3 separate regions of the Homo sapiens genome follow, and regions 1 and 3 are each linked to region 2. Evidence: fine-mapped expression QTL. A gene starts in region 2. Each other region holds a variant in brackets. All regions are shown on one strand. Distances are between the middles of the regions.

Evidence for each region. PIP is the estimated chance that this variant, and not a neighbour inherited with it, causes the effect. A credible set is the group of variants that fine-mapping cannot tell apart.
Region 1: its variant is the best candidate, but not a certain one, in a credible set for the expression of PDCD6IP-DT in tibial artery (GTEx, PIP 0.85).
Region 3: its variant is the best candidate, but not a certain one, in a credible set for the expression of PDCD6IP-DT in monocytes after R848 (Quach 2016, PIP 0.59).

Annotation. Positions count from the first base shown.
Region 1 is chr3:33,914,674-33,919,029 of GRCh38, forward strand. No RefSeq gene overlaps it. Among named protein-coding and RNA genes, the nearest start is that of PDCD6IP, 120 kb to the left of the region's middle. RefSeq lists an enhancer at 3,979-4,356. The variant A/C (reference allele first, on the strand shown) is at 2,567.
Region 2 is chr3:33,795,790-33,800,099 of GRCh38, forward strand. It overlaps PDCD6IP-DT (PDCD6IP divergent transcript), which reads right to left and starts at 2,730. Exons shown (of 2, transcript NR_183731.1): 1 at 2,606-2,730; 2 at 1-2,233. PDCD6IP (programmed cell death 6 interacting protein) reads left to right here and starts at 2,841. Exons shown (of 18, transcript NM_013374.6): 1 at 2,841-3,148. The coding sequence starts at 2,940. RefSeq lists enhancers at 2,708-3,057, 3,004-3,537.
Region 3 is chr3:33,837,185-33,841,184 of GRCh38, forward strand. PDCD6IP (programmed cell death 6 interacting protein) reads left to right here. Exons shown (of 18, transcript NM_013374.6): 9 at 1,020-1,143. Among named protein-coding and RNA genes, the nearest start is that of PDCD6IP, 41 kb to the left of the region's middle. The variant A/T (reference allele first, on the strand shown) is at 1,622.

The DNA of each region.
Region 1 (4,356 bases), 120 kb after region 2:
CTCCTCACACTGTCAGCTCCTTGGGGCCTCAGCCTGAGAACTGAGCAGGATTGCCTATCACCCACCACTGTCCTGGGCGACACCCACTCTTCATGGTGTCACCTCAGGGCCCAAAGCCCCCAGAGCTGGGACTTGACTACCCACTTCTCCTGCCCAGTGGGTAGAAGCAAGGAAGGTCTTGCAAAAATAAAAGCTGTGGCCATCAAGTAGAGGGGCGGGGGAGGAGGTGTGCGAGCAAGGCTGGAGGACAGCCGCCGCACCCCACCCCCCCATGGGTTATCAGTTGTTGCATTCCCTTGGAGAACAATTTACGACTGAGGAGGCAGGTCCCAGAGGCTTCAGCAGAAATCAAAAGGCAGCAGCAGTTATTACCTCGTCTGCTCCTCACATCTCTCCTCTCCATCTCCCAGCTTTTTTTAATATAAGGGTCTGCTGTTGTGGCCTCGAGAAGCCCCTGTCTATTCTCATACTCATCATCTCTCGTAGAACAAAGTGACAGTCAAGGGCAGTGCAACGGGGGACTTGGTGGTTTCCTAACAGTGAATCATAGTAATAGTGAGCCACTCAGTGCCAGCCACAGGGCTAAATTGTTCCATGTGTATTATCTCGGTCAGTTGGTCATTATTGTCCCCATTTTATTAAGAAGAAAACTGAGGATGAGACTACATTGTAAGTGGTGGAGTCGGATTTTAAGCTCCAGGTGCAAGTACTTAAAACACTCCCCTCTGCTGCCCACTACGGCTGCAGGCTTCCTGCACACTCCAAGCTGTCTGCAACAGGGTTGTCCTGTGCACTGTGTAGGGGCCACTGTGCTATTTAAAGACAGAACTGAGGCTCTTTTTGAGTACTTAGCTGCTAATTAAGTGTTGACGAGTCTCTGTTTCTCCTTTAGCTCTTTGTGTTTCAAGCACAGCCTCTTGTCCAGCAGCATGGACACTGCCTGGAAGCTTATTAGAACTGCAGACTCCTGGATCCACCCACCCCAGGCCTGCTAGATCAGAATCTGCATTTTAACAAGGTCCTCCTTGGTCCAGTGTACCATTTGAGAAGCTCTAGAGGTGTTTTTGCTATACAAAAGCTAGTTCAAGGGCTTCTTTCAGAATGGGGGCTGGGGCAGATGCAATACCTAGAAGTCCCATGCTGGTGTGTCCCTGTTGTCAGAAACAACGATTTCCCTGCAAGGGATGGGGAAAGCCAAACCCAGTTTTAGTATCTGTTTCCAGGGCAATGAACAAAATAGCCCAAAGAAATACTCTCAGCAGCTCTCTGAGTTAGGCAGATCTGCCAGTGTGCAAACGCTAGATGGCAATGGATGGCCAGGCACGAGCGGGAAGCAGGCATAGCTCTGTCACTGTCAAGGGGCAAGACAAAATGATAAAGGCAAGGTGCCGGGGGAGGAAGTGCGCTTGAGCACAGTTGGGTTGTGAAGGGAGATTGTTGGGATAATATTAAAGAAACTGAGACTTCACCAGCAAGTCTGGGAAGGTTTTTTTGTGGAGTGAGAGATTTGGGCAAGAGTGATTGCTTCTTTTTTGCCTCTAGCTATGTTAAACACACCAGTCTCCCCACAGGGGAGGGATGTCAGCAGCTGGTATGGTGAAGCTGAGGGAATTAAGCATGGGTCAAAAGTTCCTAATCTACTCCCTGAGGTCAGGGAGGCAGTGGCAGGCATTCTGCAACATTGGTTAGTGAAAGCTGGCCTGAGGGAATGAGCACATCCTTTCCCACCACGCCCTGTGCTGGCATGATATGCCCACATGCTGCCCCGGTGCTCGTGGGTAACACCCTCATGCCTCTTAAAGACTTGGAGGTGAAGTGCTTGGATCACAGTCCTCTTGTGTCCAGCTGTTTGGCTGAATCTGGGGTGGAAAAAAAAAAGCAGAATTATCCTGGCTCCTAAATTTCTCTTTTCTTCACCCTCCACAGATTCCCTGGGACTAACTTGTAGGGTGGAGCCCTGTTGCACTCATATTGGAGAGGCTGGAGTCCATCTTTGGACTTGAGGGACTTGGCTTCTAAGAAAACAAGGCAAAGGGAAGTTTTGTGAAATTCCCCAAATTGTAGGGTCACCTTATAGAGCTGGCCTCTTTTATTCTATGGTGGTTGGTTCCGGTAGGACCCTCTCATTTGGTCAGTGGAGCCAAAAGTTGAAGAATTTTGTTGGACAGTCGTTGAAGAAAAAGCCATGTTTTCTTGACTTGTTGGTGAGAGTGCTGCCTGAAATATCTTGGAGTCATGACAGGTGGGTAGAGACACATTATTCTTAGAGATTTCAGTGTTTAAGTTCAGGATCTGGACTTTTGCAAGTTATTCTCTTTCTCTAAGCTGAATTTAGGCTTGGCTGGACAGCTGACCAGTGCAGAAGTCTACAAGCCTATAGGTAATAGGGTTCAGAATTATAGGATGGATGCTAGAAATTATTCTGTCTCTCTCTTGCCTTGTTCAGATGGGAAAACTGAGGCCCAGAGAATTCCATTTGGTTTATTTCAGCAAAACATAGGCAAGTGCCCACTCTGGGCCAATCCCTGTGCTGGAGATCTAGGTTATAACGAAGAGTATGAGACAC[A/C]GTACCTATTAGTATATGGATTAGTGATCAGCTTATCCATCTAGCTTATGATTCAACTTGTAAGCCCAGGTCACCTGGCTGGCCTGCTGGTGAGTGATGAACACAGGCATAGACTATGGAAGGATTCATTCCTTCTTTCTTCTCTCCCTCCCTCCCTCCTTCCCTCTCTCCCTGCCTTCCCTCTTTCCTTCCTTTCTTCATTTTTTTTTTTTAATTCTGATGATATTTTAAACCTTGAGGGCTTTGCATTTACCGGGTGGAAATGAGTAAGCAGCAATATTAGTGATTCCAAGGACATGTTTGATCACTTTTGTCCTTCCCCAAAGGCCTTGATACAAGACATAGTGCTTTTAGACCTGAGGAAGCAAATTTATTTATTTTTTAATTTATGGGAACTTGCTTTAACTTCTAAGAGGGGGAAAAAACCAAGCTAGTACACTTAAAGGCTTTTTTTTCTTTTCTTTCTTTCTTTCTTTTTTTTTTTTGCTTGAGGAAATACACCTTCTGCGATAGATAAACTCAAAAATACACCCAGGAAGATGCTGTCCAAACTGCAACCCAACCACAATTTACAGTGGGCTGCCCTCATTCTCCAAGTTCTATTTCTTTTCTTTTAGGGTGTATTACTTGAGTAGGTTTTGTAGGTAGAAAGAAATGGTGAATTAAAAATAAAGATGTTACCATCTTTTCTGGAAAATTGCTAGTGAATGGCTGCATCTATTACACAGTGGTATGCAATGATATGAATATCTCAGGTAAATAGACCCCCAGCCCTCCTCACTATTGTGAAATCTGGTAAAGGCTACTGTTTGGGCTTCTGTGTCTGTGCTGACCAACAGGAAGAATTAGGGGCCTAAACATCAGGCACTTGAAGTTTGCATATAATTGAGCTTCCGGACCTCTAAAAATCTTACATTTTATTCACAAACACAGGCATCTGCTACTAATTAAAGTATCAGGGTATAATTATACCCTTTCTTATTAGTAGATATGGAATCTGACAGTTGCTTAGATACAAAATAAGCAAGTGCAGATTGCGTTCTGCATGCTCTTCACAGGCTAGGGAGACAGAACAACAGAATTTTCAAATGCTCTGTGTAAATGAGTCTTGTTGCCCAGAAAATGTGAAGTTCTGAATTATCATTGGTAAATTTGCCTAGGAACAGATGTTAATCCCATCACAACTCTGTGATTTGAGCTTTAATATCATTCAATTCTTTCCCTTGCCCGGTCCCCTCACCCCTGCACTGCACCCTAACCACAAAACAAAAAGCACGAGTCTTTCCAAGATACACACAGTTAAGGCCTATCATCTAACAGCATTGCAGGGAGAAAGCAGTTGTGGCTTCCTCAGGAAATTCTAGAGCCTGAAGAAACTGTCTAGAATGGCAGGGCTGTGTTGTGGCTGGCTTAGCCATTGGGTTTGTCCAAGGTCCACTTTGGGCTCAGTGGTGTGGATTCTGTGTCCAGGGAGCCTTGTGGTCATTTTAAGATATCCTCTCCCCAGTGCCCAGCTATGTCTTCACATCATATAATCAGAGAAGTTCCCTGCTAACCCATCCGCTCCAGGAACTTGGGGACCAGGCCTTTTTTTGGTCACCTGGTATATCACCAGTGTCTAGTTTGTTGCTTGGCCCTTAGAAGGTGCTTAGTAACTACTTACTGAAAGAATGGATTCTGTTGAGCCCTTACATGCATATAACCCTGGGAAAGGTGACACTTTCAACCTCAGTAGTCATTTACTCCTCAGATTGTGTGAATTGATTAGATCAGGAGTTGGCAGGCTATAG
Region 2 (4,310 bases):
TAGTGGGGAAGTCAGATAAAAATTATATCAACAAACAAAATACTTGCAAGTTAGGGTAAGTGTTATGAAGGAACTAATGGCTGCGCTAGAGGTTAACAAGGGAGGGAATCTACTTTAGATAGTATGATGATGAGGAGAGGAGACCTTTCAACTGAGATATGAAGAAAGGGAGAAAACATTCTAGGTCACATGAGGCAAGAAAGATCTTGGTGTGTTTGAGAAACTAAAAAGACCATTGTGACTCAGTGGTAACAAATGAGGAACAAGAGGCAAAATATGAAGTTGCAGAGAAAGATCATCATGTTGTGGCAGGGAGTTTGGTTTTCATTCCAAGCCATCAGATAGTATCACCTTAATCTTCCTTTGGTCAATGCCACAAAACTAACCACATCTATGTTAACTTTCTTTTCTCCGCCATCTGCCTCAACAAATGTCATGTCCCTCATCTTTCTGATGGCTAATCACTCCCTTTGTATCCTCCCTCCTCTGGTTACCCTTTCTCCTCTTTTCATATACTTTGCTTCTTCGTTATCTTCCCAATGGGTCAGTCCTGTCAACCAACCTACAAGACACCACCCATCCCCCACCCTCTTCCATGGGTTATCAACTGGTAATGATTCTACTAACCACTCAGATGTTCAGGCCCCAAAACCAGGACCTATCTTGACCACTCTCTTTTCTTTACTTTCCTATGCAGTTCATTGGTAAATTCTTCAGTTTTAAACTCAAAGATATTATCAGTTTGGTTCACTCTTGCTAATGTTAGCTTTCCTGATTTCGTCTTGATTTCTGAAATGGTCTCATGATTTGCCTCCTTGCCTCCATTCTTTCCTTCCTCTAATTTTTTCTTTATGCATCAGCCAAGGGTGGCTACTTATTTTAACATAGAATAGCTTAATTAAAATAAACAAAAATTTTTATAAATTGTGGTAAAATAGGCCGGGTGCAGTGGCTCACGCCTGTAATCCCAGCACTTTGGGAGGCTAAAGCGGGTGGATCACTTGAGGCCAGGAGTTCGAGACCAGCCGGGCCAACATCGCGAAATCCAGTCTCTATTAAAAATACAAAAATTAGCCAGGCATGTGGTGTGCACCTGTAGTCCCAGCTACTCAGAAGGCTGAGGCAGGAGAATAGCTTGAACCTGGGAGGTGGAGGTTGCAGTGGGCTGAGATTGTGCCACTGCACTCCAGCCTGGGTGACAGAGTGAGACTCTTTCTAAAAAAAAAAAAATTGTGGTAAAATAAACTTTTACTATAATGAAAGTAGTCTATGTGCTGCAAAAGTTACAATGAAAAAGATAGGCAAACACAAAGAAAAAAATACACATTTCCACTTCCAAAGATTACCAATACTAACACCTTAGGGTATAAGCCCACTATTTTTTTAGTTGTACATAAATACATATATGTGCATTTTTAAACCAAAATGAGATGCTGTAACATACTATTTCGTGACTTGCTCTTTTCAGTTAATGATCTTTTCCATGGCAATACAGTTCTATTTTATCCAATACTCAGTCCATCTACATTCATATTTCTTTAATGGTCCTGAAAATGCATTTTATAGACAGTCTGTTCAAACCAGGATCCAATTCAAACTGTTATGTCCCTTAAATTTCTTTTCATAAAGCAGTTGCTTTTATCATGACAAATTGTTGAAGAGATGGGCCAGTTATCCTGCAGAATGTTTCACCTTCTGGATCTGTCTAGTTACTTCCTCTGGCATCATTTAGTTTGTTCATCTATCTGTTGTATTTTTTATAAACTGTGTTAGATGCAAAGGCTTGACAGATTCAAGTTAAATATTTTTGCCTGGAATATACCATGATGATACTGTATACTACATCCCATCAAAAGACAAACTATCCGATTGAGCTACAACGTGGCCTTTAAAAAATGTAAATTATAAGTGTATATAGCTTCCTCTGCATTTATTATACAATACTAAACAAATTCTTCAACTTGGACAACAAGTTTCTGAATGATTTGATGCCTGCTTACTCATCCAACTTTATTCCATCCCATTCTATTTGTTTTTAAAGGTCTTGTCACATGTTTCGTTTCTAGTCCTGAAACATGGTTAAGTGCTTGCCTCCTAGGGCCTCTGCCGCAGGCTTTTGGTTTGGAGGCTCTCCTTTGCCACTCCACCCCTCTCCACTCTTCTCCTCTTCTGATATCAAGCATCTTCTCAAATTACAGGTGTCGTTTTTAATTTATTTAAAATTTTGTTCTTTCTACAAAACAGCAACCAGAGACACAGGTTCATTTTCAGTTAACCTACTCGGAGAAAACCTACTTTATCTTATTTAAATTAGGGTCCTCCAAGCGATCTTAACATCTCCTAAGTCCCAAGCACCCTGTTTTTTTCCTGATACTTTTTCCGTTTACCTTAAGGTCTGTGTCAACCTGACAGTAAGCTGCACGATGGCAGGGGTCTTGCCTACTAGGTTCCCTGTGCACAGCAGCCCGTCAACAGTAGTTGAATAAACATCATAGGTCACAATAACCCTGGGACTGCCTCTTGGGGAGGTAGCCGCAAACTCTCGCAGGTGGCAGTGACACCAGTACTTCTCCGGGGGGTTGTTCGAGTGGAGGAATACTCTTACGTGAAAGTGCTCAGTACACCACTGCGGCAGGAAGGAGGAAGGGAAGAATTCCAGATGGGGAGAAAGTAATATTTTGCAGCACAGTACAGGGTAAACTGGGTCCAGGTGGGCGTAGCCGCCGCGACACCTTCACGTGACCGCGGACAGCTTAAGGACCCCGCATCCAGTGCGCCTGCGCTGGAGCTCCCGGAAGTTGCCGGACCCGGAACGCAGGCGGAGCGCAAGTCTGTCAGCCAGTCAGTCCGCCAGTCCGCCAGCCCAGTACCTCTCTCTCCTCGGCCCTCGTAAGCTGTCCGCGGTCTGTTTGGCCCGAACGGCGGCGGAGGCGCTGATCATGGCGACATTCATCTCGGTGCAGCTGAAAAAGACCTCAGAGGTGGACCTGGCCAAGCCGCTGGTGAAGTTCATCCAGCAGACTTACCCAAGCGGCGGGGAAGAGCAGGCCCAGTACTGCCGCGCGGCGGAGGAGCTCAGCAAGCTGCGCCGCGCCGCAGTCGGTCGTCCGCTGGACAAGCACGAGGGCGCGCTCGAGACGCTCCTGAGGTGGGCGCGGGGCTGGGAGTGGGTAGGTTGTCTGCCAGCCGTCGCTCGCCGCTCCTCTTCCCGTCTCCCCCCTTCCTTCAATCCTGTAACCTGGGCGGAGCCGCCCCGTCCCGGCCTGACCAGGCGCGTAGGTGTGGTCTGCATTCTTTGCTGGTGAGCAGGACCCGCCCTGCAGGCCCGCTGTGACTGCCCGCTTGTCCTGCCTGCACGTCTGCTCTAGCCCTTGGTCGGCGAGGGCTCCGTGGATCAGATACCTGGGAGCAGCAGTCTGCCCTGTACTGATCTCTTTTGCCACATTTACTTAGAACTAGTCTTCACTTTTTTGGGTCTCTAACTGAAGCTTCCCCTTTCGCCCCATTTTTCCATCACTGTCTTTCTTGGGCCACATTTTGATTTCATAATAGTAGTTGCTTGAAGGCAGTGGGGGAAGTGGGGGAATTGGGACACTGGACCAAATGTCTGATCAGCTCATCACATTGTCCACATGAAATGGACCGTCTTCCTCAGTTCAAAATAATCAAATGATAGATGGAGAATTCTGAAAGTTAGGAGCTACAACTATTTGAAATAAAACTCTAGTTACATAGTTGAACCGTTCAAGGTAGGTTGTTTAAAAGCAGTTTGTTCACAAACAGATATATACACAGTAGAGTAAATTTGTTATTTTAGCAAACGCTTATTTAGCTCATGCTGATTTAATGAGGGTTCCTTTCATGATACTTAATAGTTATAAGAACATTTTTTACGATTTTATAGTTAAACATTTCTTTTGCATACCTTGTTAATCTCGTTTTCTCCGTATAGTATATTCTACTTGTTTCACAGGAGAATCACAATTGTATTCCAATCCAAGTAGCAGAAACCCAGGCTAAACTAGCTTGAGCTAAGAAAAGACTTATTCTGCCGGGCGCGGTGGCTCACGCCTGTAATCCCAGCACTTTGGGAGGCCGAGGCGGGCGGATCACGAGGTCAGGAGATCGACACCATCCTGGCTAGCACGGTGAAACCCCATCTCTACTAAAAATACAACAAATTAGCCGGGCGTGGTGGCGGGTGCCTGTAGTCCCAGCTACTCGGGAGGCTGAGGCAGGAGAATGGTGTGAACCTGGGAGACGGAGCTTGCAGTGAGCCGAGATCGCGCCACTGCACTCCAGCCTGGGCG
Region 3 (4,000 bases), 41 kb after region 2:
GCTTGGATTACAGGCATGAGCCACCGTGCCCGGCCTATTTCTTTAAACATGTAAACTTCTGGAGTGGTATTTGTATGAGATAAATACATGTTATTATATTGTAGATGTATACAACAGATGGTAGCCTCTAGCTGAGATTCCAAGGAGAATATTCTGTTACTGGGAAAGGGTGATTATATGTTTATTTAGCAAACACAAAGTGTTTACCATGTGCCAGGCACTCTTTAAGCACTTTACAAATATTAGCTCATTTGTTTTCAGAAGTGCCCTGAGATGGGTACTGTTATTATCCCTATTTGATGAGGATACTGATGCACAGAGTGGTTAAGTAATTTCCTCAAGGTCACATAGCTAGGAAGTGTTGGAGCCAGAAATGGAATCCTGCTGCCGTGACCCACTCAGTCAATTTTTTTTTTTTTTTTGAGACCGAGTCTTGCTCTGTTGCCCAGGCTGTGGTGCAGTGGTGCAATCTCGGCTCACTGCAACCTCCGCCTCCTGGGTTCAGACGATTCTCCTGCCTCAGCCTCCCCAGTAGCTGGGACTACAGGCTCCTACCATTACACTGGCTAATTTTTGTATTTTTAGTAGAGATGGGGTTTTGCCAAGTTGGCCAGACTGGTCTTGAACTCCTGACCTCAGGTGAGCCACCTGCCTCGGCCTCCCAAAGTGCTGGGATTACAGGCCTTAGCCACTGCTCCCGGCCCCTCATTCAGTTTAATCAACAGATGAACAGTGTCACTGAAGATCCCTCAAACTCAGTGATGAACACATCTGAAAAAGAAAGAAAATTAAGTTCAAAGAAGAAACTTTTCATTGTTGCCGTTGTCCATGAATGTAGTGATCTAAAAATTCTCTTTATCATTGTGCTTTAAATAGTGATTTAGTTTTGATCTTTAAATGTCAATAGACAATAAATATTTATAGACTATGTGAATATTGGAAAGAAAATATAAACAGTCACTTTTACAGTTCGGGTTTTTGTCTAAAAATTTTGTTGTAATTTCTCTTCCTAATTTTAGATCTGTTTGAGAAGATGGTTCCCGTGTCAGTACAGCAGTCTTTGGCTGCCTATAATCAGAGGAAAGCCGATTTGGTTAACAGATCAATTGCTCAGATGAGAGAAGCCACCACTTTGGCAAATGGGTAGGTAGAGCTTAATTTTAGAGCCTAAAGTTTTCCGTTTGGTTGTTCTTTAGTTTATGAACATTTTAGTTTCTGAGCTTAGAGCTAAATGTCAAGAGTATATAAAATAGAAAATGTAGACACACACTTACAACTATTTTTGTTGGACACTGTATTTATGAAGCTCTAGCAAATATAGTTGGAAGAAATTATAGAAACAAGGTGAGGATATGAGGACTAAAAATTTGTATTTTAAGAGGTATTTATTTGGAAATGAGAAGTAGAAATGAACTCAGATACATGGTACATTTAGTGTTCTGAACCAATTTTTGTTTCTGATGGACTGAATACTAAGAAAATAATTCATTGGTTTAAAAAATTTTTAGGTATATTTTACACACACAAAATACACCTATTCTAAGTGCACAGTTCAATTATTATATGTATATGTGTGTGTGTGTGTGTATGTGTATATATATATATTTATGTATATATATAT[A/T]TTTTTTGTTTTTTGGGACAGGGTCTTATTGTCACCAGGCTGGAGTGCAGTGGTGTAAACACTAAACATGGCTCACTGCAGTCTCAACCTTCTGGGCTCAGGTGATCCTCCTGCCTCAGCCTCCTGTGTAGCTGAGGCCACAGGTGCAAGCCACCACACCTGGCTAATTTTTTGATATTTTTATAGAGACAAGATCTCACTTTGTTGCCCAGGCTGGTCTTGAACTCCTGGGCTCAAGCGATCCTCCTGCCTTGACCTCCCAAAGTGCTGGGATTACGGGCATGAGCCACCATGCTTGGTCATTTAGTTAGTTTTGATAAATGTATGTACCCATGTAACCGGCACTATGATTAAGTTAGAGAACATTACTGTTACCCTAAAAAAATTCTCTCATGCCCCTTTCCCAGTCCTTCTTCTTTTAGCCCCTGGCCGCTATTGATCTGCTCCCTGTCTTAAGTTTAGTTTTACTTTTTATACAATTTAAAACACGTGTAATCATTCTAGCATATGCATATACAGTACTTACAGTATGTACAGTATATACTTAGAATGTGTTTTGCTTTTTTTCACTTAGCTACTGTTTTTGAGATTCATCTATATTATGTGTATCAGTTTCAGTCTTTTCTATGGCTGAGCAGTATTCCATTTTATGGTTATAGGGCAGTATTCCATTTTATGGTTATACGGCAGTATTCCATTTTATGGTTATAGAGCAGTTTGTTAACTCTTTCACCTGTTAATGGGCATTTCAGTTTCTGTGAACATTCATGTATAAATCTTCGTGTGGACATATTTTAGTTCTCTTGGGTAAATACTTAGGAGACAAATTGTTAGGTTGTGTGGTTAGCATATTTAATTTTATACAAAATTGCCAGGTTGTTTTCCAAAGTGGTTGTTCCATTTTATATCCTATCTGCACTGTTTGAAAATACAATTGTTCTGCATCCTCACCAATACTTGGTATGTCAGTCTTTTTAGTTTTAGCTACTTTAGTGTGTGTGTAGCAGAATCTCACTGTGATTTAGTTTGCATTCTCCTAATTGCTAATGATACTGAGCAGCTTTTCATGTGCTTACTAGCCATTCATATATTTTCTGTAAAGTGTCTATTGAAATCTTTTTCTCAGTTTTTAAAAGTGAGTTTTTCTTAATAGTTAAAGACTTCTTTACATATTTTGGAGGCAAGTCCTTTGTCAGATACATATAATTGAGAATATAGGTGACCCTGAACAACATGGGGTTATGGATGCTGACCCCCCTGCACAGTCAAATCTGCATATAACTTCTGAGTCCCCAAAACTTAACTACTAATAGCCTGCTGTTGACCAGAAGCCTTACCGATAAACAGTCAATTAACACATACTTTGTATATGTATTATATAGTATATTCTTATAATAAATAAGCTAGAGAAAAAATACTATTAAGAAAATCATAAGGAAGAGAAAATATATTTACTATGATTAAATGGAAATGGATCATCATAAAGGTCTTCATCCTTGTCTATTTCAAGTTTGAGTAGGCTGAGGAAGAGGCGGAAGGAGGGTTGGTCTTGCTGTCTTACAGGTGGCAGAGGTGAAAGAGGTGAAAGTCCACAGGTACACGGACTCATGTAGTTCAAATCTGTGTTGTTCAAGGGCCAACTGTATTTCTCTTGTAGTTGGCTTGCCTTTTCATGTTTTTAGTTTTGATTAATGCATGGATTTTACCATCATTTTTCTCTAACAAGAAAGGAATGTAAGTTTACTCTAGCATATGATAAACAGGCAGTCTGAGATTTTACAGAGCTTATTTTCTGAGGAGTTCATTGTATTACATCATTTCATTTGCCTTTTTGTCGTTACATAGTAGATAGGGATATGTACCTCCCTTCGCCATCATGTAACTGAAATAACTGAGGAATTGTTATTGTGCTACAAAACTGAGAACAGATGAAGATTCTGTAATGAATACTTAGATCATCTATTTTCTGTTGACATTTTGCCTAGATGATGTGAAATTATAACTATTGATTCTGTTGAAAGAGAGCAAAAAAGAAAAAAATAACTATTTTGTGTATTGTTTCTGACTTGTTAGAGATGCTGTAACAATCAAAAGTATAAAAGACTGCTTTTTTAGGATAGAATTTTTGACTTTTAATTACTTAGACTGAAAGAAGTTTGAACTGTAAGCCGACGATACCTAATATATTTTAATGCGGTCATAGTTTTTCTTATTTTTTGACTTTTTTTTTTTTTTCCCCCGAGACGGAGTCTCACTCTGTCGCCCAGGCTGGAATGCAGTGGTGAGATCTTGGCTCACTGCAACCTTCGCCTCCCGGCTTCAGGTGATTCTTGTGCCTCAGCCTCCCAAGTAGCTGGGATTATAGGTGCTCACCACTAC